Homo sapiens: one gene and its partners. The protein of the gene in region 3 interacts with the protein of the main gene of each other region in a biochemical or structural test. Each region holds a gene or a part of one and is shown on either strand. Other genes may lie near its edges.

The links. Proteins that work in one complex are often made in the same cells at the same time.
Region 1: the proteins of SP7 (region 3) and HNF1B form a complex in vitro, tested with the Homo sapiens proteins (one study listed by BioGRID).
Region 2: the proteins of SP7 (region 3) and NFIC form a complex in vitro, tested with the Homo sapiens proteins (one study listed by BioGRID).

What each region holds. Positions count from the first base shown.
Region 1 is NC_000017.11:37,734,665-37,742,132, reverse strand, and holds part of HNF1B (hepatocyte nuclear factor 1-beta), read left to right. Parts: intron 1-2,493; coding exon 2,494-2,693; intron 2,694-7,468. UniProt on the Homo sapiens protein: Transcription factor that binds to the inverted palindrome 5'-GTTAATNATTAAC-3'. Binds to the FPC element in the cAMP regulatory unit of the PLAU gene. Transcriptional activity is increased by coactivator PCBD1.
Region 2 is NC_000019.10:3,369,510-3,376,977, forward strand, and holds part of NFIC (nuclear factor 1 C-type), read left to right. Parts: intron 1-7,468.
Region 3 is NC_000012.12:53,332,977-53,340,752, reverse strand, and holds the start of SP7 (transcription factor Sp7), read left to right. Parts: upstream 1-4,398; 5' UTR 4,399-4,607; intron 4,608-4,976; exon of another isoform or gene 4,977-5,059; 5' UTR 5,060-5,106; coding exon 5,107-5,127; intron 5,128-7,776. UniProt on the Homo sapiens protein: Transcriptional activator essential for osteoblast differentiation. Binds to SP1 and EKLF consensus sequences and to other G/C-rich sequences.

The DNA.
Region 1 (7,468 bases), on a different chromosome or scaffold from region 3:
CGGACCCTGCGGGCGCCGCGGCCGGCGTTTGACACCTGCGCTTGGGACACAATGGCCGCAGGCCCTCTTCGGGACCGGTGCCTTTCTCGGTGTTAGGGAACCTCTGAACCTGAGCTGTGTTTTCAAACAAACAAACAAAAATAACCAGCTCTCCCGGCTCTTCCCGGTGAACACACGTGAATTTTGGGGTCAGAGGGTTGTGAAGGTATAACTGCGCCATCTTACTCCTCACTCTTTTAAGTCGGACTTAAAAGGTTTTGCCATTATTTATAAGGTTCTTGGGGGCTTTTTTTAAACCCTCCCCAATTGTTGGGCTAATTCACTGTTTCCACAGAATCATTCCCACTTAGAACAGTACCCTATTTTTCTAGGTTTCTTAGGCATACAAAATGAACACAGGTAAAGGCATTTAAACAAAAGAAAAATAGCCGAAGAATTTGCTAAAGCAATATTCACTTTTAAAATGCAATTTTTCCCCTAAGGTTCGAGGAGTCTTGTTCGTAGCCGTTGAAAGTATTTTTCCATCCTAAAAATATCGGTGGAAATATTGACCAGAAATAAACTTTTAAATGATCTGTGATGTTTACAAGGATATGTCTAAAACGTTTATTACATTATTTTCCTCTTAATGTGAATTCTCCACGTTTGAAACTGTAACTCGTTTTCTCATTTTTTGTTCTTCTTGTTACTTCCTCATATTGTGTACTTGGAAATTACCTTTGTAAATACTTGAGAAATTCGTTCTTATATATAATTAATATAAAAAGTTTGCATTTCTCAAAAACATCTCTATCAAAGCCTGTGTTCTCACGAGTTTAATATCAAAGTCTTAATAAAATAATCACAACTACCCAAATGCTTATAAAATATGTTCGATTACTGGATTTTTATTCATTAAACAGAATTAATTTTATTTGACATATTTAAAGGCGCCATTTAGAAATAAAATTGCTTATTATGTTGCAATGCTGTATCTATTTCAGCCTCTACACCGTTTTCTTTTTTGTTTCACCTGAAACTAGTTTTCCCTTCCGTTTTTTTTCTTGTTCTATCAAGCTAATATATATATCAACATACAGTAATGGGGTGCTGGTTTTTGTAAGTTAAATATGTACCTGCATTAAATAAATAGTAAACATGTATATATTGCTTCTTTAGTACTTTTGTTCTGTGCTGCACACTATTTTAATTTCTAGTTTTAAATTATATCTCTCTTTTCAAAGCATCTGTTCAATAAGCAAGAAAAGATATTGGCAAAGTTGAAACCATTCTAGACAAATAAAATTCAAAGGTGCTAAAACTAGCAGTTTACACACCTGTGTTTATGAGAAATGAAAAGTATAACCATGTTCTTATCCAGTATTTAAAATTTATGAGAAACATAATACAGGAAAACAAGCATCTAAAATTGTTAATGTCCGAAATTGAAGTTATTTGTCCCCATTAGCCCAGTAGATTTTGTCTGGAAGGTGGAGCTGTGGATTTTTTTTTTTTTTAACTACTTGCCTCACCTCAGTGGTGTGATCCTCCCGTCCCAAGGAGATACAACATTGTATTTTGGAAAACTTTTCTAAAACTCTGAAAATTATTTACTATTTGGCTAAGACATCCTCCTTGCTTCTTAGAAGGTGAACACATACATTTCACCCCTGTTTTATAAGAAATGGAGATACCCATTCAAAAGGAAAATAATGTAGGAGAGGTTGAAGCTAAAATTGGGCAAATTCAGAAACTGATGCTATCCCTACTTCATTGTAGGATCAGGGAGTCCAGCCCCAAGCTAAAGGCATCCCCACTTTCCAGTGGGCCTCCTGCCTTTTAAATCTCCCACATTGCAGGAAAATGGAGGAAAGCAAAATAAAATGGCCAGGCGCGGTGGCTCACGTCTGTAATCCCAGCACTTTGGGAGGCCGAGGCAGATGGATCACCTAAGGTCAGGAGTGTGAGCCCAGCCTGGCCAACATGGTGAAACCCCATCTCTACTAAAAATAAAAAATTTAGCTGGGTGTGGTGCTGGGCATCTATAATCCCAGTTACTCTGGAGGCTGAGGCAGGAGAATCGCTTGAACCCAGGATCCTGGTGGAGGTTGCAGTGAGCCAAGATGCCGTTGCACTCCAGCCTGGGTGACAAGAGCAAAACTCCACATCAAAAAAAATAATAATAAATAAATTAATTAATTAATTAAATAAAACAAGAGCTTTTCTTTTTGCTTAATAAGAGAGAGTGGTGGTGGTGCTTTTTTATTCCTGAAGATGGGAAGTCCTCTTTTGCCCACTAACCTCAGAAGAAAGGGATGAGGTGTACCGTACAGGGGCAGTCACCTTCTCCTCTGTTTAGCTTCCATTTTGGCCTCATGTCTACCCCAAAGTTGTAGCTTAGATGGGGGGAAAATTCAGAATTTTGCATAGACCATAGGTAGCACCCCCTAGAAAAAGAATGTTTCTCCCCAGATGTCTCCCACTAGTACCCTAACCATCTGCTTGTCTGTCTAGTGAGGACCCTTGGAGGGCTGCTAAAATGATCAAGGGTTACATGCAGCAACACAACATCCCCCAGAGGGAGGTGGTCGATGTCACCGGCCTGAACCAGTCGCACCTCTCCCAGCATCTCAACAAGGGCACCCCTATGAAGACCCAGAAGCGTGCCGCTCTGTACACCTGGTACGTCAGAAAGCAACGAGAGATCCTCCGACGTAAGTGTTTTCATCCTGCCTCTGCCTCAACCTGAAGTGACCTTTGCCCTCTCACCCCATTGGCTGCCTCAGTTTCCCTTTCATCGACAAGGCCTTGTGAGCACTTGGCAGATATGAGGAAGGTGGCAAGTAGATTTGGCCTTGGTGGTTGCTGTACAATGGATTGGCTTCTGTCATGTTCTTCAGTCACAGCCCCCTTGCTACCCAGCCAGTTGCTCTGAGGAGCCTGTCAGTGTATGCAGCATACCTTAAACTTTTTGGCCCCTCCTTCCACCTCCTTCTCTTTGAAACCAAGTAGGTGACAGAGTGAAATGTCTTCCCTGAGAGAAAACCCAGCATCTCCCCTTGATACGTGACCATCAGTCAATTTCCAAAGAAGACATTTCGTTGCAGTCAATAATATTGATTACTATTACTGTTAATTTCCTCCTCTCTGGAAAAAGTATCAACAATAGAATGCATTTGTATAGAGAGATATATTCAGAACTTCACCCTGTTCTTGGAGGATAGTGGGAGGGATTGAATCCTGAGGCAATTTAAGGTGTTTACCCACATTTACCAACACTGGTAGAGTGTGGGGACCTCAGCTGGTGGCCCTGCTCATGAAGAAGCTATTTCTGGCTAAGGCAGGGCACAGGAAAAGCATCTGCATTTGGAACTCTGACCCATCAATTCTTGTCATCCCCATTCCCATCCCAAAGTTTTTTTTCTGTCCCAAGATTTCTCCCACCCAATAATTCTAAAAGGTTTTTGTTTTGAAGTACGTCTAGAGAAGTTTGAACTGCCTATGAATAACAAGAGTAGGAATGACATACTGTCTGTATTTTAGGAAAGTATTCTTTGACATTACACTTTCATTACTTTGATCCAATCCTTTTCCTGGAAAATTTGTATCGGTTTTCACTCTCCCCACACACTATCCTCTGGCTTTATCTAGGCTTCTCTGTCTTTATCAAGATGTTAATTTCCACCACTATCTGGGTTTCTGGGTTGGGTTTTTTCCCTGTTGCTTTTTAAAATGACTCTTGTCTTCTGTTACACACTGCTCTGAAGTGATTGTTTCAGTATTTATTGTCTCAATGTCCCTGGGCTGGTGAAAGGAATGGTTTTAGGTGTTCATTTCATATTGTGGTGTTTGTGCTTTTGTTGGGAGCATTACATGAATAGATTGGAAGAAGCAACATGAGAGCTGTTTGCTGCTTAGAGCGAGAGACCTTTCCAAGAATGGGTTGGCCCCCCATACTTGGTGACTAGCTCTTTAAGAATTTGTGTTCCTGACATGAAGCAACTCTCTGTAGTTCCTGGAAAGCCTAAAAAAATTCTCAGGAGCCATTGTCTCCAAAGACCCAACAACGCTTGGGCCCTGCCCAATTTAAGCTTTATGCAGCATTTCCAGTCTGTGCTGCCTCTCTGTATTCAATGAGAATTTCTTCAGAAAGGAGAAGGAGGCAGGAAAGGCAGACTGGAAACTTCTCAAAAGACAGAGGTCCAGAAAGTTTCTCAAGATGCTGAGGAAGGGACGTTTTACAAATACAACAGCCTCTTCAAGAGATTGTTGTTATTGTTATTTTTGTTTTATTTATTTATTTATTTATTTAACTTTTTGAGACGGGGTCTCGCTCTGCCACCCAGACTGGAGTGCAGTGGCGCGATCTTGGCTCACTGCAAGCTCCGCCTCCCGGGTTCACGCCATTCTCCTGCTTCAGCCTCCCAAGTAGCTGGGACTGCAGGTGCCCGCCACCACACCTGGCTAATTTTTTTTTTTTTTGGTATTTTTAGTAGAGACGGGGTTTCACTATGTTGGCCAGGCTGGTCTTGATCTCCTGACCTCGTGATCCGCCGCCTCAGCCTCCCAAAGTGCTGGGATTACAGGGGTGAGCCACCGCACCCAGTTGTTATTTTTGTTTTAAAGTCACACGAGACATAAAAGCTTAAGAAACATTCCTTCCTTCTGTAACTATTATACAGGCACCTACTATGTGCCAAACACTACGCTAAGCTATGGAATACATAGGTTCTTTTCTCCAGGGACTTACCTGCCATCCAGTGAAGAAGTGGAGATGTTTGAGTAAATAATGACATTCACTTTCTAAGAGCTGTTATAAAGATATACACAAGGGGCAGCAGAGGAATTGCTAAATTGCCTGGAGACATCATGGGAGGCTTCCTAGAAGAGGTGACATTCAAATCATGTCTTGAAGGATGAATGTAAGACATGCAAGCATGATATAAGAATTAGGAAGTAAGAGAAATAAAAGAGGGACACAAGTGAATGGGGTGAGGAGAAGGAGGAAGAGGGGAGAGAATAAAAAATGATACATGATTACAAATTTCCTGGAAAAACTAAAAATAACAAATGGTAATATTCATGGGCCCCTCTACACACACAGAACCTCCTTGTCCAAGCAGCCCCCAAGCCTATAAAGAGGCTACTGAAGCCAACTTCTCCAAGATAATTTTCATGGGCAATGAACATTTTCTTCCCCAACCCCAATTAATCTGAAGGGAAGTAGAGAAGAGTTGTTGGTGGCTAGAGGGAGCAAATGTGGGAGTCTAGTTCTTCAAAAATTGGGAGAGGCTAGAGCCAAGCCCCTGATGTCAGTGGAACCCGAATGGTTCTGAGCACCTACAGGCAAACCCACCTGGCTGATTTGAGGACACACTGAGTTCTGAACACTGTTCAGCCTGCTACCTCCTCAAAGGGCAGGTGAGAGACTGAGGCAGCCCTCACACTGGGGAGCAGCTGCGAGAGTGTCTCACACCCACCAGACACAAAGCTTCAGGAATCGGTTTTGTCACCTCCACACAAGTCAGATATGAAGCGTTTGCGGGGTACGTGGCTTGGGTTTTGTTTTTAGTGAGAGGTGATGCACAGGCTGGTAGTTAGGAGCCTGCAAGCCTGCAGGCTGGGCTCGTGTCCAGGCTCCTGCCCCAAGTCCACATGACTTTGGACAAGTCACTTCACCAGTCTGAACCTCAGTTTCTTCATCTGTAAAATGGAGGTGGCTGTACTTCTCACATGGAGCGGTCGTAAGAATTAGATGAAGGAATATATTTAGAGGATTTGGCACAATACCTCACCACAGAAAAGGTTCAATAAATGTGAACCGTTATTGTGTCTGTTCACATCAAATGAAAAAATCTCACATTGCTCCCAGGCCCTTGGGATGATCCACACTGGCTTTCGCCATTGGTGACTCTACTGGTGCCACACAGGGCCCACGGGGAGGAGGGAAGACACTGTGACAGACCTCACTGAGCAGGGGACATCTCCTTCTCCCCCTTGGATTTCCCCTCAAGTAACTGCATTTAGAGAGCTGCTGTGAAGTCAAATACCATAGAGGGGCTAAAGCACTTTGAAAAGTATAATCAGGTGGGGCATGGTGGCTCACGCCTGTAACCCCAATGCTTTGGGAGGCTGAGGTGGCGGGAAGACTGCTTGAGGCCAGGAGTCTGAGACCAGCTTGGGCAACATAGCGAGACCCCGTCTCTACAAAAATAATTTTTTTTAATTAGTCAGATGTGGTGGCCTGCACATCCGTAGTCCCAGCTACTTGGGAGGCTAAGGCGAGAGGATGGCTTGAGCCCAGGAGGTCAAGGCTGCAGTGAGCTATGATCGTACTACTGCATTCCAGCCTGGGTCACAGAGCAAGACCTTGTTTGAAAAAAAGAAAAAGTATAACCCCCAAAGGAATTTGGGCCAACATCACTATCATCCTGACTAGGGGTAGATATTCTAAAAGACTAGTTAGTGTCCCTAAGCTTTCAGTCAGTCTCATTCCACAGCTGGGGAGACTAAATGATGAGGGAATTAAGCTGGGGCCCCACATGATCCCACTAGCAGTGACTTCCTGCTAGTACATTTGACAGGGACTCTCTCAGGTCTATAGTGGCATTGTTGGGCACCACTGAAAACAGAGCCCTAAGGTGGCCTAAGAATCCTCCAAGGTGAATGGGCCGAAATCAAAGGCCCCAGTGACACCATCAGTCCACAGTTAAACAAAGCCCAACACCACCTGCAGTTGGGATTGCAAGTCTTGGCGGGCTAGGGGCCCTAACCATTCCTCCCGATGGAGCAAAATGGAAATGAGCCTAAGACAGGTGGTAAGTTCCCTGCTGCTGGAGGCATATAGCCTGGAGGGCCACTTGGTGTGGGGTTGTAGAGGGGATTCAAACGTTAAGTAGTAGCCTGACTTGAACCTTGAGGATTTTGGATCCAGTTGTCCAAAGGAACAGGAAGGATGGCATGTAAATGATGGCACATCATTTACATCACAAAGGGAGGTGGTAGCCTTCCACTTTCTGTGACCTGTGGGAGTAATTACAGGAACTGAGAAAGAAAGTCATCAAGGTCGGGCACGGTGGCTCACACCTGTAATCCCTGCACTTTGGGAGGCTGAGGCAGGTGGATCACCTGAGGTCGGGAGTTTGAGACCAGCCTGCCCAACATGATGAAACCCCATCTCTACTAAAAATACAAAAAATTAGCTGGGCATGGTGCCGCACACCTATAATCCCAGCTACTCAGGAGGCTGAGGCAGGAGAATTGTTTGAACCCGGGAGGCGGAGATTGTAGTGAGCCGAGATCACACCACTGTACTCCAGCCTGGGCAACAAGAGGCAAACTCTGTCTCAAAAAAAAAAAAAAAAGATATTAAGATCCAGAACATAGGGACCCAGAGCTAGGAGATGAATGTATTACGTGTCTTTGCTCAGCAGAGTGCTTAGCCTCCATGTTTATTCATCTTTAAAATGGAATTAATCACTCCTGATGA
Region 2 (7,468 bases), on a different chromosome or scaffold from region 3:
GGCGGGGGGTGGGGGGCATCTCGGTGCCAGCCCGCTCTGTGCCACCCGGGCCCGGCCCGCCGAGTGGGGAGTGGGTGCTGGCGGCCCTGGGGCATTCTGGGAGCCCCGGGCCGGGCTCAGCGGTGACTCAAGCGCTTTTTCACTTTTACTCTTAAGAGGAACTGTGTGGAGCCCATGGCTCCCATAAATCCTGCCGGCGGGAAGGCCGGCCTCCCCGCGCCTGCTCTGGGCCTCCCTCCCTGCCTCCCTCCCGCTGGCGCCACCGCCACGTTAGTTATTCCGGGTTTGGGGCCAAGTCCCTCTTGGCCGCAGCGTGGCGGATTCCCCGAGCCACCTCCATCCCGCCACCGGGTCCCTGTCTCATTCGTTCGTTGTTTCCTTCATTCGTTCGTCCCATGCCCTCTCGGAGCACAATGTGCTTTGCTGCCATTTCTCCAGCAGGGTAACCGAGGCTGGGAGAGGCTGTCCTCCCACCCCAGACCCCCGACCTTTGTTGGATTTTCTAGATCTTCCTTAAGCATCTCCTGGGCCCTGGGGATAGGTGGGGGTGGGGGAGGCAGCAGGGCCCAGGCCCAGTGTAGGTTCTTAGAGGGAGCTTGGGGGGTGCCTACCAGGAGCAGGGGGCCTGCAGCCCCTCAGTGCCGGGAGAGGGGCTAAGAGTCAGAGAGGGCCAGGGCCTGCCCGAGGTGGCACAGTGGGGCTGGCAGAGCTGGGGTTCAGGCCATTTTCCATCTGGCGGCTTGGGCAGGTGGGCGCTCTCTCCCCGTGTGCCCCCCACCCGGGGCCTGGTGGCCTCTGATTCACTCTCTACAAGGCTCCACCACTCTCCCGCTGTATCTCCCTCTGGGTCTCTCTGTGCATCTCTCTCTGTTTCTCCCCCTCCCCTCTCTGCGGCGGAGGTGCCTCTGCGCGCCAGGGCCAAGCGCCCTGTAAATCACCAAAGCTGGGATTCTGGCAGAGTCAGCGTTCTCCTCTCTCTCTCTCTCTCTCTCTGTCTCCCTCCCTTTCTCCCCCCATCTCGCTCTCTCCTCCTCTCTCCCTCTCTCCTTCTCTGTCTCCCTTTCCGTCTTTCCCTCTTCCTTTCTCTCTCTCTCCCCGTCTCCCTTCTCTCCCTCTCTCCTTCTCTCTTCTCTCTCTCTTTCTCCCTCCCTACCTCCCTCTCTGTTCCTCTTCTTTCTCTCTGTCTGTCTCTTTCTTTCTCCCTCCCTTCCTCTCTCTCTGTTCCTCCTCTTCTTTCTCTCTCTCTGTCTCTCTGAGCTGGCCTCCCTCCCTGTCTCACACCAAATGGATGGGAAATGCTGCCTGGGCCTCCTGCCCCGGACACGGCCCGCCCCCCACTCTCCTGCCTGTGTCCACGCCGACCTCACCTGGGTGCCCATCTGCCCTGAGCACACAGCGTGCGGGCACCCAAGTCCTGACCAGTTCACATCCATGAGCACACGCTGGGCGCACACGCGTGCACACTCCCTGACACCCATACGGACGAGGACACAGCTCTGCCTGCCTCGGATCTGCCTTGATGGGGGTCACCAACACACAGACCTAGAGTGCCCCTCACATCTGCCTGAAAATCTTGCTCAGGAGGTGCCAAACCCAATATAGTACCTGGTATAGAGAAGGTGCCAAATAACTGCTATAGAGTGGTGCCAAATAAGTGTTGCTGTGCTTGTGATTGTTGCTAAACTAATTCTCCTCTTTCCTGACTCTGGTGGGTGACCTGCCCCCACCCCCGGACCGTTTCTTGCCCTGAAATGAAGTCAGCAGAAACCCCCACTTCCTCAGGGCTGCTGCAGATTCAGGGAGGCAGCACAATTTTTTTTTTTTTTTTTTTTTGAGGTAGAGTCTCGCTCTGTCGCCCAGGCTGGAGTGCAGCGGTGCGATCTTGGCTCACTGCAGCCTCCGGGGAGGCAGGACATTTCTGAGGTCCACAGTGCAGGGCTTGGTACTCAGTAGGTGCCCAATAAATACCTGTTGCACGAATGAATGAATGAATGAATGAATGAATGAATGTTTTTGGTTGAGAGGCGGGACTTTGGTCTTCCCGAGCCTCCATTTCTCCGCCAACATAAAATAAAAAACATAATGGCACTTTCCTCAGAGACATCGATGTACCTTAGTCCGACACCTGGTATACAGTAGGTGCCAAATAAGTGCTGCTGTGCTTATGGTTGTTGCTAAACTAGTAATTGCATTGAACACCCCAGAGGCATTTTCCAGTTTCCCTCCCTTCCCTCTGTGTGTATTTGCGCAGCGTAAGCCCAGCTTTGGGCTGGGTGACAAGGACAGTGGTGACCTGGAAAGGCCCAGGCTCAGACCCCTCTCTACTGTGGCATTTCTGTTAGTTTTTCTTTTCTTTCTTTTTTCTTTCTCTCTCCTTCCTTCCTTCCTTCCTTCCTTCCTTCCTTCCTTCCTTCCTTCCTTCCTTCCTTCCCTCCCTCCCTCCCTCCTTCCTTCTTTCCTTCTCTTTCTCTCTCTCTCCCTCTCTCTCCCTCTCTCTCTCTCTCTCTCTCTCTCTCTCTCTCTCTCTCTCTCTCGGAGTCTTGCACTGTCGCCCAGGCTGGAGTGCAGTGGCGTGATCTCAGCTCACTGCAACCTCCGCCTCCTGGGTTCACGCGATTCTCCTACCTCAGCCTCCCAAGTAGCTGGAATTACAGGCACGTGCCACCACGCCTGGCTAACTTTTGTATTTTTAGTAGAGACGGGGTTTCACCATGTTGGCCAGGCTGGTCTCAAACTCCTGACCTCAGGTGATCCACCTGCCTCGGCCTCCCAAAGTGCTGGGATTACAGGCATGAGCCACCGTGCCCGGCCTCTGTTAGTCTTTTCTCCCTGCCCAGCCCTGTCCAGGGTCTCCCTGAGTTTGACCAGCCCTGTGTGGGTACCAGCCTTCCTTACACATGGGGGTGCATGGATAAGGGGGGTCCCAGAGGCAGAAGATGGGAGCATTGCTTCAGTGGTCTGGATGCTGGAGATGCTAACAGATCAAAGCTGTGCCCTTGTGGGACCGACAGTCTAGGCCGGGTCGGGGACGGGCAGGAAACGAGGTGACCAGGACTCCTTGAGGATGTGGTGTGCGACCGACCTCGGGGATCAAACAAGGGGAAGGGAACCACGTGGGACTCGGAGAGTGTGCACGGTGCAGACCAGGTGTCACTGGACGCTCTGGCCCGAGACTGTTTGCTCAAGGGGCCCAGGAGTGGGGTGGGGGGGTGCCAGGAGGCCCAGGGACCAGTCCCAGCTCAGTTCCTCCCTGACTGTGTGACTTTGGTGGAAGATTTCATGCCTCAGTCTCCTCCTCGAGGTAGTGGGTGCAATGATAGTCCCCACTTTCATAGTAGACTTTTTTTTTTTTTGAAACAGAGTCTCGCTCTGTCGCCCAGACTAGAGTGCAGTAGCACAATCTGGGCTCACTGCAACCTCCGCCTCCCGGGTTCAAGCGATTTTCCCGCCTCAGCTTCCCAAGTAGATGGGATTGCAGGTGTGTGTCACCGCACCTGGCTAATTTTGGTGTTTTTAGTAGAGATGGGGTTTCACCATGTTGGCCAGGCTGGTCTTGAACTCCTGACCTCAGGTGATCCGCCCGCCTCGGCCTCCCAAAGTGCTGGGATTACAGGTGTGAGCCACCGCGCCCGGCCCCTATTTCGTAGTAGACGTGATAGCTCAGCAAACGCTCAGCCTGTAAGAGGCACAGCCTCGCTCCCTGCCTCTCTCCTCCACCTCCTGGCCCCTCTGGCTCAGCCCTCATTGTCCTCCCAGAACATCAAGGCACAGAGGGAAGTAGGGGACCCAGGGTTCATTTTGCTGACTCACTGCCTTGGCAGAGAGTTTGAACCCTGTGGACTCAGTTTACCCAAATTCCTCACTGTGGCCCACAAGGCCCTGCCCAGCCTGTCCTTGTCCCCTCCTCAACCCTCCCCTCCTCTCTCTTTCCCCCTTGCTCATTCTGCTCCAGCCACATGGGCCTCCTCGCTGTTCCTCTAACACGCCAGGTGCGGTCCTGCCCCAGGGCCTTTGCATGACCCATTTCTCCATCAGAAAGCTCCTGGCCTGGAGTGCCATCTCTCAAGACTTTGTTCAGGTGTCTCCTCCTGCAAGAGACCTTCCTGGACCCCCCCCCCAAGCTAAAAAACACCCCCCACCCCAGAGATTCTCTGGTCCCTCAAACTCTTAAATTTCTTCAGAGCACTTTGCCCAACTTGACGTTTTATTACATATTTTGCTGATTTTAACCATCCGTCCCTGCCCCAGATCTGGATCCAGGTGAGGGCCGAGCCCAGGTCCCTGCCAAGTCCTCGGCACCCTACCTGGGACCGGCATGCAGCAGGCACTCACTAAATGTTTGCTGAGCAACAGAATGAATCTTCCCTCTCTGGGAGCCGTTCACATGTCCACAGGCTGTGATTTTCTGAGCCAGGGGAAGGAGCGGCCCAAGGTTAGAGCCTGACGCTGGTGCCGGATGGGCCTGGGGTTGTCCGTGGGACCATGGACAAGTCATCCGACCCGGAGAAGAAGGCATTAGAACTAAGGCTTTGAAGGATGCGTAGGAATTTGGGATAAGTGCTAAGTAGGTAATGAGCTAGATTCTCATGAAGGATTGTTGAGTCACTTTTACCTGGAAACTTTTGGTTTGGAAATTGGAGTTTCTTGTCCTGGTTTGCTGGCCTGGACTTTCAGGGTGGGAGGAGCACAGGGAGGTGAGTGAGGGCATCACCCAGTGCATGGCGTGGTCGTTCAGCAAGGTCTTGGGTCCAGATGTCTCTCCCAGCTGCTGCTGCTCTCTTTGGCCAGGAAGTCCCAGTGGGCTAAGCTGGGGTTTCCAGGAAAGACCTAGCCTTGTTCCCCTTCTCCCCATCACCTTGCAAGGAACAAGGTCACCAGGCAAGCTCCCCTGTCTCCAGCAGGCTGCAATATTCCTTTCTGCCCATTGTACAGAATGAGAGACTGAGGCTTATCTGAGGTGATCTGTTCCCCAGCCATTCAGATGGTGAAAATAGACCTTACTGTCACCCAGCCACCTTCTCCGACAGTGGGTGCCTCAACTCTGGGCCTCAGGATTGGAGAGGGAGAGGTGATAGAACTGGATGGTCCTGGCTAGATCTGGGAAACCCTGGGTTGAGGAGGAAAGGCTGCTTGAAGGAGGGGACACTAGAGATAGGGCGTTGAGGGATGTGTAGGAGTTTGGGAGGATTTTCAGCATCTAGCTTGTCTTGGTTATCTCTTTTGCCGGTTGGGCCTCTGAGGGCAGTAGGAGGTCCCTGGGGAAGAGGCCCTGGTTATTGCAGGTCATGTGGGAGAAACAGAGTGACAACCGGCCAACCAGGCCCTGCCTCTCACGTGGTCTGATCCCCTGGGGAGGACAAGGGAGGATGGGGCAGCAGGTCCATGACCCAGTTACAAGCTGTTTGTCTTCCTGCCTCTGTAACTAGCCGGGGTCACCACTGACGTGGGCCCCCACCCCTGCCCGCCTCCCTGGCACCTGTCCCCGGAAAGGGCACAGAGAAGGGGAGGAACATAGAGAAGGGAGGGACAGTTAGGGAGGAGGAAGGGAACTCAGATCTACGAGGGGCCAGATGAGAAAAGGAATTAAGAGGAGAGGGGAAGTGGGGAGGGGGAATTCAGAGAGAGAGGGGGGTTGGGGAGAGAAGGAGTTGGGGGGACAGTGATCCCTGCCCCCATCATGGATGCCTCCCCTGTCCCTTCCAGCAGCCTCTTATCACAGCCCCAGTAAGCGCCAGAGCTTGGGTGGCAGCCACGGCCCCAGCTGGACAACATTGTCCGGGCCTCCTGCCCGCCTGGCATCTCCTCCACAGGCAGGTCCTGCGCCTCTATGGGTCCTCTCTGCCGCGTCCCACTGTGCCCCCCACCACCCCCACTGCCCGGCTTCCCTGGCCAGACCATCTGGGCTCTGGTCCCAGCTCTGCTGACCGGCTGTGTGACCCTGGACAAACCACTCCCCATCTCTGGGTCTCATCCAGTCAGGGGCAGGGACGAGATTGGACAGGGCCTGGGCCGGGCCCCCTCCACCTCCCCTTTGCCTTAGCAGGTTGGCTGGGGAAGCGGGGGCAGCGGAAAAGGGCCCTGAGGTCCGGTCCCCGCCGCAGCTGTTACGGTGACTCACGCTTTGGGGGACATTGGGGTGGGGGAGCTTCGCTGGTACAAGCTGACTCTGGTCTCACTGGGTGGGGAGGCTATTTTCAGAGCCTCAGTAATAGGTGAAATCTGATGTCCTGCCCCTCCCCCCGAAGCACCCCACGGCCGGAGGTGGCCCAAGGGGACGTGGAGCACAGAGCAGGGAGGGTGATCTGGCAGCAGCTGCTCTGCCCATCCCGGCCTGGAAATGGGACCGAGTCCAGCCACATCCGCTGGCACACACAGTGGGAGTCCAGGGTCAACGTCTCCCTACCTTCCTGAGACCCCAATCTTACAGAGAACAGGCTGTTCTGAGAAAGGGACCCGTGGCCTTCCAGGGGGTCAGGGCCCTGATTCTTATCCTCACACCGGCCCTGAGACCCTGTGGGACCTCAGCCAGGTCTCCGCCCCTCTCTGAGCCTTAGTTTCCATGCCACAGAACACGGAGCGGGGCCTCAGGCTGTTCCCTGCTTCCTGGAAGATTGTCTGCAATCAAAATGATCATCGCAGCAATCGCGTCCATAGTAATGAAAATACCCCAGCATCTTAGAGGGGCCGAGGCGGGAGGATCGCTTGAGCCCAGGAATTCGAGACCAGCCTGGGCAACATAGCAAGACCCCCATCTCTACTAAAAGTACAAAAATTAGCTGGGCATGGTGGCGCACCTGGAATCCCAGCTACTCGGGAGGCTGAGACATGAGAATCGCCTGAACCCAGGAGGCGGAGGTTGCAGTGAGCTGAGATCATGCCACCGCCCTCCAGCCTGGGCAACAGTGTGAGACACTGTCTCAAAAAAAAAAAAAAAAAAAAAAAAAAAAAAAGGAAAGAAAATAGAAAATATCCCAGTGCCTTAGGAGGCCGAGGTGGGAGGATCACTTGAGCCCAGGAGTTTGAGACCGGCCAAGGCAACACAGTGAGTGAGACTCCATCTCTGCAAAAATAAAAATTAGCCAGACATGGTGGTTTGCACCTGTAGTCCCAGCTACTCAGGAAGCTGACGTGGGAGAATCGCTTGAGTCTGGGAGTTCAGGGCCCAAGTGACCTAAGATCGTGCCACTGCACTCCAGTGAGACGCCTGTCTTTTTTATTTATTTATTTATTTATTTTGAGACGGAGTCTCGCTCTTGTTGCCCAGGCTGGAGTGCAATGGCGCGACCTTGGCTCACTGCAACCTCTGCCTCCCGGGTTCAAGTGATTCTCCTGCCTTAGCCTCCCGAGTAGCTGGGATTACAGGCGCCTGTCACCATACCTGGCTAATTTTTTGTGTTTTTAGTAGAGATGGGGTTTCGCCATGTTGGCCAGGCTGATCTCAAACTCCTGACCTCAGATGATCCACCCA
Region 3 (7,776 bases):
CCTGTCCCCTCTATGTTCTCTGTCGCTGGAGTATCCACTGGAGACAAGGGCTGGGCTGGGTGCATGGGCGGGTAGTGGCCAGACCAGGGGCCCGGGACATGAGCGCAACTTTCCAAGCTTCTCTTCCAGGCCCCTGTGGTTGGGGAGCTCCACAGAGGGAGAGATGAGTCAGCGGGGCCGCAGAGCAGCGGGGGCCTGGGTGGGGGTAGGGATGCTGGGGTTCCCCAGGACCAGGGAGTTCGCTGGGGCCATCTGGGTCTCTGAACTCTGGTGTGTGTGTGGAGTATTGGATCAAAAGTACCTAAAGGTACACTGGAACTTCTTATACTAGTAGGAGTTGGAGGCAGCAATTTGCAGGACTGGCAGTGGCCTCCATATCACCCTTATCTCCAGATCCTTATAGGGAGAGGGGTTCCCAAATGCCCTTTAGGAGACCACAGAGATCTCCAGGGCTGTAAAGTTGTAATGGTAGCCCTGGGTATATGTATGTGACATTTGCCACATGTGTAGATACGTGTGTTGATGGGAGTCTGTGAGTCCATGTGGGGAGTATTCTAGGTGGCTGTGAGTCTGTATGCATGTATATATATACTGGTGTGTGCATTTTTATGATTGGGGGTTAGGGTGTCTTGGGGTAAGCATTATCTGTATATGTATATATCAGTGTGTGTCAATATGGATGCCTGCATAGTACAAATGTGTATGAATTATGTGTCACCTTGTGTGTGTGCAAGTATGCAGATCTGAATGTGTCTGTCATCAGGTATGTATTAGGGCATGTGTCAGTCTCTATTTCAGGGGCTCTGCTCACTATTCTCTGGTGATTCTCCCTAGGGTAGTCAAACCTTCTATAACAGCAACAATGAAGAGTTGGGAGTCCCTTTGGATGAGGCTCTTAGAGACAGCCCAGCCTAGAAAGGTGGTAGAGGGTGATGGTGTGGACGATGGAAGTAGCATCCCTTGGGAATAGGGGGTACAGGTCTCCCACTCTCCCCAGTTTTTTTTTTCTTTCTTTTTTTTTTTTTTTGAGATGGAGTTTTGTTCTTGTTGCCCAGGCTGGAGTGCAATGGCATGATCTCAGCTCACTGCAATCTCCACCTCCTGGGTTCAAGTGATTCTACTGCCTCAGCCTCCCAAGTAGCTGGGATTACAGGCACCCGTCACCACGCTCAGCTGATTTTTGTATTTTTAGTAGAGACGGGGTTTCACCATGTTGGCCAGGCTGTCTCAAACTCCTGACCTCAGGTGATCCACCCACCTTGGCCTCCCAAAGCGCTGGGATTACCGGCGTGAGCCACTGCACCCGGCCCCACTCTCCCCAGTTTTCATTCTGTTTTCACCCCACTGATCTTTCCAAAAAGATCCAAAATCATTTGGAGAACTGAGGCAGGTGCCAGATTCAACCCCCTCTAACCTACAAAGCCCACCCTGATTCTCCTAGGGGAGGGTGGGAAGGGAATGGTTCCTGTGGTTCAGCCCAGTCCTGGCATTGGGATATCAGAAAGGCATCATCCCACCCCTTCCGTCTGGGGCATCCATCCCTTGGAGCTCAGCGTCTGGGTGGCCATGGGCGGAGGCTGAGGGGCCCCCAGGGTGGTGGGGGGTGGTGGATAGAAACCAGATGCCTAGGGGGTTTATACTGGAAGGACCAGAGCCGCAGCCTCTACCCGCCCCTGCCACATGGCGCCTCTCCCTGGTCTGCCCCACCCCCTGGGAGGCTGGGCTGAGGGAGGCCTGAGAGGGTGGAGGTAGGTCCTTGGTTAGGGCTTCCAATTGCTGCCCCCAGCCCCTCAGGGCACTGGGAAGGAGACTGGGGAGCTGGACCCAGGAACACCAGAGCCTCAGCTGGGCTGCAGGACTATTTTTAAAAAGGACATGGAGAAGTCAGAACCCAGGGGTTCCTGAGGGCAGCAGCTGGGGGATTCAGGCAGCCCCTCTGCCTATCTTTGGCGCTGATCTCTGGTGGGGAAGAGGCTCTGTGTCCAGAGGGTGTCCTATGTTGACACATCGGGGCACTGGCTCACATCTTCCTGGGACTCTGCTCCTCCTTTTTATTTCTCCGAGAATAGTAGGGTTCGAATAGAGAATAGTAGGGTTTGAATACGTCTGCCCCTTCCCGGGTAGGGTTAGGGATTAAAGCCCACACGGGGAGTGAGAAGGTGACCCTTCCTTCCAACTCCTCTCCCCAGCCCTGTCTGTCCATTTATCTTTCCATCCTTCCTCCTTTTCCCCTTCAGTTTCTTCCTTTCTTCTCTCATCTAATCTGAGTCCCAACCCCCTCCTCACCTGCTATCTCTTCTTTAGAATCTAGACTTTCTCCTCCTCTGCCTCAGTTTCCTGCCTGATCTAACTGGGTCGGGCTTTTCTGCTGGTGATACAGGAATTTCTCTAAAGCTTCTCTTTCTCAACTTCTGAGTTCGGGGCCCCGGAAAGCCATCTGGCACCTCAGTCTCAGACTCCCCCCCAACAAGGGGGAGACCGCGAGGTCACAGGGACACCCCACCACGGGCACTTCCTCTCAGGCAGACGGGTGGGGTGGCCCGTGTAATCAGCGGACACAATTATGTGCTATTTATACTCCTTCCCCGCCCCCCCACCTGCCTGGCAACACAACCCTCCTCCTCCTCCTCCTCCTCCTCCTCCTCCGGACCTGGCTATGCCTCAGGCTATTTTCTCTGTCCTTCCCAAGCCATTGTCTCCCCATCTTTGTTCCTCTGGGCCTGTTTCTTTATCTTTTTAGTTTCTTTCCTGCTCTGTTTTTTGTTGTTGTTGTTGTTGTTGTTTAAAGCCACACATCTGGTCTTCTGTTTTCCTGTTTCCTCTCTCTTATACCTGGTGATATCTCTTCTGATTGTCTTGGACTCTTTCATTTGCTCTGTTTCTTCTTTTGCTGCTTTCTCTTTGTCTATCAGCCACCTGGTTCCCAAACCCTTCCCCTAAACCTTGGGTTCCCAGAGTTCCTTGAGGTAAATCAAATCATGGGGCTAGAATCCAGAACTCCTGGGCCCTACCCTGAAATTGGTGCCTACCTGCTGGCGAAACTGCTGTGCAACCCTCCGTGGACCTCCATCTGCTCCTGCCACCTCCCAGCTTTTTCTTTGGAGATCTGGGAGAGCAAAAGGAGCAAGGAATTGGGCACTCCGAGAAAGTGAGGGGATGGTGTTGCAGAGTGAGGAGAGTGGAAAGGATGGGGCTTTATTCCCCTGACAGGGAGAGCTGGGAGGGGGAGAAGTGTGTGTTAAGGAATAACCTGTAAAACAACCCCAGCGGGCTAAGCCCCCCTGTGGGAGAGCTGCCGGTGTCACCACTTAGCTGCCCAGTCCTCTCTCCCATAAATACCTCAGGGCCCATGGCCCAGGTTTCAGGTAATAGACTTTTTGGGTTTCCCTCCTAACCTGGCTGCCCTTCCTTCTCTTACTTCCTATTTTGTTGGGAAGTCCTTATTAAGTTCTAACTTCAGTTCTTTCTGTGGAAGAGGGAATTGATGCATGGCAATGAGAAAGGGAACCAGGAGTTCCCAGGAAAGTCAGATCACTCTGGAGAACTGTCCACCAAAGGATGGAGATTAAACCCATGGTCTCTAAGAGATGGTAACTTGGTTACCCAGGGATGGTAACTGACAAGGAATATGGAGGTTAGGGCATTTCTTTTTGGGGGAAATAATCCAAAGAGGTTAGGTGTCGGCATGAATGAGTTGACCCAATGACCTTCTACCGCCACCCTCACTCCTGCTTGTCTTAAATTTTCTCTTCATCAGAAGATCCAGGTTCTGCCCCACAAAGTGAGGTAGGCCTAGGTATCACCTCCAAACAGTGAAACTGAGGCACTGGGAGGAAGACTGAGGGACCCCCAAGCCAATACCAAGCCTTCCCCAACTCTTCAACCCTTCCTCCAGGCCTTGCTCTGGAACCAACCTCAGTGACACTAAAAGTTTAGGCAGCAGAAACCTCCACCTCAGAACCTTCCATGCCTCTTCCCACAACATACACACACACACACACACACGGGCACGTACACACACACAGGGGCACATACACACTGCTCTCCTGATCTAGAGGCAGGTGGGTGACTGGGGAAGCAAGCCTCTCCATGGTCAGCTGGGGCGGGTGTGGTGCGTGTGCCTCCAGTGCGTCACTGTGTGCATTTGTGTGTGTCCGTCTGTGTTCATTCATGATAGTGGCTGTACCCATGTGAGTGGTACTGTGTGTACGTGTGCATGCATCACCCCTGTGTTTGGCCATGAGTGTGTATGTCAGTGCGTTCCAGTCTCTCTGTGTGAGTGTCGTCCCCAACCCCCCATCCCCCCCCTGGATCTCTAATTAGTGGTTTGGGGTTTGTTCCTTTTCCCTCCTGTTCCTTCCCTCAGCAGCGGCGGGCGGCAGCAGCCTAGGCAGCAGCAGTAGCAGAAGCAGCAGCCGCCGAGCAGCAGCAAGGACTCTGGAGTCAGAGTAGGACTGTAGGACCGGAGCCTGAGTGGAACAGGAGTGGAGCTGGCCTGGGAGAGAGCGGATCCCTCCCAGCACCCTCAGGCCACCCGTTGCCTGCACTCTCCCTGCCAGACCTCCAGAGAGGAGAGACTCGGGACAGCCAGCCCCAGGTTCCCCCAGGTACATGACACTGGGGAGCTCTGGGAGGGGTGCCCACAGATGCCTATGGGACTGCTGCCGCGTGTAGGACACCGGGGTCCACCATCCCTTTAACCTCTCCCCTCAGCAGCCCCCCGAGGAAGCCCTGACAACTTGCCCATGCTGCTCTCCCCTCTTCCTGCTTCCCACCCCTTCCATGGGCGCCCCTTTTTCTCCTCTCCCTCCCTGATCCCTTCTTTGGGGAGCTCAGCAAATGGAGCAGGAAATTTGGACCCTCTGCCTCCCTCTCTCGCCCTCCTCATTGGATCTGGAGCCTTCTCCGCTGGGAAAGCTGTAATTAGAGGGTGGATCCCTACAGACAGAGAGCAGCCCCCCACCCCGGTCCCTTCTAACTTTAGATCTCTTCTCTCCCATTCTCCCATTCTCCCTCCCTCTCCCTTTTCTCTCTCTACCCCCCCCACCCCCCGGCTCAGCTCTCTCCATCTGCCTGGCTCCTTGGGACCCGTTCCCCAGCCTCAGGATGGCGTCCTCCCTGCTTGAGGTAACTGTCCCCTCTTCCCCCCAGGAAACCAGCCACAACCTTAATGGTCCTAGTCCTTGCCCACCCACCTCCTCCAACTCACATAGATAGTAGCTGTGGTGCTTGTCAATTCCAGGGGTCCTTCTGATGAGGAGAGAGGAGTGGGGTCCAAGAAAGGGGAAGCAGAGGGCAGGAGAAAAGGGAGGGAAGAATAGGGCCAGGGGTCAGAGGGCAGTGGAAAGAGGGTGAGAGGGGATTAGGTCAGAAGAAGGCATGGACCCCTACCTAAGGTCAGCTAAGCACACTGACTGTGAGGAGTGGAAAAGCGATGGAGAAAGGAGGGGGAGGGGGGCGAGGGGGAGTGAGGAGAGAGGGGTGGGAAATACATAAGCTGGCAGAAGAGATAGAAGGCAGAGAGGACTGGCTGAGTGGGCACAGAGCAGCAACTGGGTATAGCTCTTTAGGGGTCCCGTCTCCTGGGACTCGTAGCCCAGACAGGATCTTGCCTGGTTTTGTGGGGAGGGGGCTGGGCCCGTGAGCTGGTGTGTGGAGGAGAGGAGGTAGGCTATGAGAGAAAGGAGGAGGCCAGCCTGTGCCTGTGGGGGAGCTGACCAGGGGAACTGAGCCCAGGCCTGTGAGGGAACCAAGGAGGAGGGACGGGGTCTGAGGCCGCTTGCCCGGCTTACAAATATTTAGCTTTCAGCCAAAGACAAACTCAGCTCTATTTTGGGAGTGGGAGGCTCCAGGGCGGACTGGGCCACTTCCCCTCCGGGCTGGGACCCCAGCATCCCTTGCCTCTGGTGCTGGGGACAAAGGGAATTGGGGTACCACTGGGGTCAGGGTTTGGGGTCTTGAGAAATTTCTGACTCTACTCTGGCTTCTGGGGGACCCAAGGCACAGAGTTGGGAAGGCAGGGCTCACAGCCACTCAGGGCCAGATTCCTCCCTGCTTCTGGGTCTCTGACACTGTTCCTCTGTCACCATCTCTGTCCTGCTTTCTGGGTCTCTCTGCAGGAATTTAGGGCCAGAGGGCCCTCCCTGAAAGTCAGTCCCCTTCAGTAGCCTTGACTCTTCCCTATTCTTGGGTCCCACATCTCTCTTCCCAGTGCCCTAGCTCAGGCCCAGGGGTGCTGGGCCAAACAGGAAGCCAACTCACTCAACCTGTGGGAGAGGTGTGTGTTTGTGAGATGGGGCAGGAGTCTTTTAACACCTGTGTTCATTGGCCTGAGTGTAATCGTTAGGGTGCAGTCGAGGGTGCCACAGGCCCTGAGAGTGTGTGTGTGTGTGTGTGTGTGTGTGTGTGTGTGTGTGTGTGTAAGTTGGGCCATCTGAGTGCTGTGAGTCCAAGTGATAAATGGTGTGTGCACAAGGCTGTGAGATAGTGAATTTGTGGCTGAGTTTGGGGGAATAGCATGCAAGCCAACCAGATGGACACCACGTCCCTTGTCACACTCTGTATCCAGCCAGGGGTCTACCCGTAGCTGCAATGGGAGCAGACTGTCATCCTGCCACCTCCCCAACAGACTCTATTTTGAGCCATCATTGAAACACTGTGGTCTTGAGGAATAAGATGCATGGAAATCCTGGGTCCACCCAGGGCAGGGACAGTGTCAGTGGGCGTGGGCATCATGCCAGTGTTGCCAACGTGGCGCTGGTGGCTTGGGAGGGACTGGCCCAGAGGCCTGCTGGAAAGACATGGGATTGGGATAGTGCATGGCGAAAGGAGAGTGTTGTGGAAGCTAGACTTTCATGTCCCCTCACTCCTGTGAGCTGGAGATGCCTGCAACACGAAGGCACACCAGTCCCTCCTGTCCCTCGACCACTTGCACCTAGTTTTTGAGTACCTGGGCCCTCAACTTCCTCCCCACCTCCCCAGGAAGCCCTCCACCTTGTATGGGTGGGCTCTCTGGCAGTGGGAAGCAGCTGCTGCTTGATGGGGGGCTCACCTCGGCCAAGTGAGATTCAGGGGAACAGGGAAGGGGAAGAAATTGTTGGGGGCCTAGGTGGGAAAGGAGAATTGGGAAGCTGGGAAAACGAAGAAACTTGGGAGAAGGCTGAGAAAGTTGAGAACTGGAAAATGGGACCTTGACTGCTCCAAACCTAAGGCCAGTCAGCCCTGAGATGTCTAGTGAGCACTTCCGCTGGGAGGCCAGGCTGGGCACTGCACCATGAGCTCCCTGGGAGGAGGGGATCCCCCTCCCCTGCTCCACATCTGGGTGGGAGAGTTGGGACAGCTCCTATCTTGTTCTTTTTCCAAACACTCCCACTTCAATACTTTAATTCTGTTTGTCTTGTTTTGTTTTGTTTTAAGGGTGGTGGGGTGGAGGTCGGGAGGGAACAACTCGAAGGTGGGACTGCTGGGCCCTGGAAAGGGAACACATTTGATCAGGTATGGGGACACATGTTTAGAACTCTTAACCAGTGCTCTTTCCCCAAGTTCTCAGGAGAGAACAATCAGCAAGAGAAGGAAACTGAGGCTGTGGTGAAACTTAGCCACGTGCTCAGCCTGTAGCCCCCAGAGCATTCTGAGTGGGTCTGGTTCCTCGCTCCCCATTCCCTGCCCTCGAGGGCCCTCTGGGCCTCCACTCCCCAGGGCTGGGGTCTCCTGTTGGCCTGGGGCTGGCTGCCTTCTTTCACCCCTCCTTCCCTCCCCACAGCTGGGTGGGGTCCC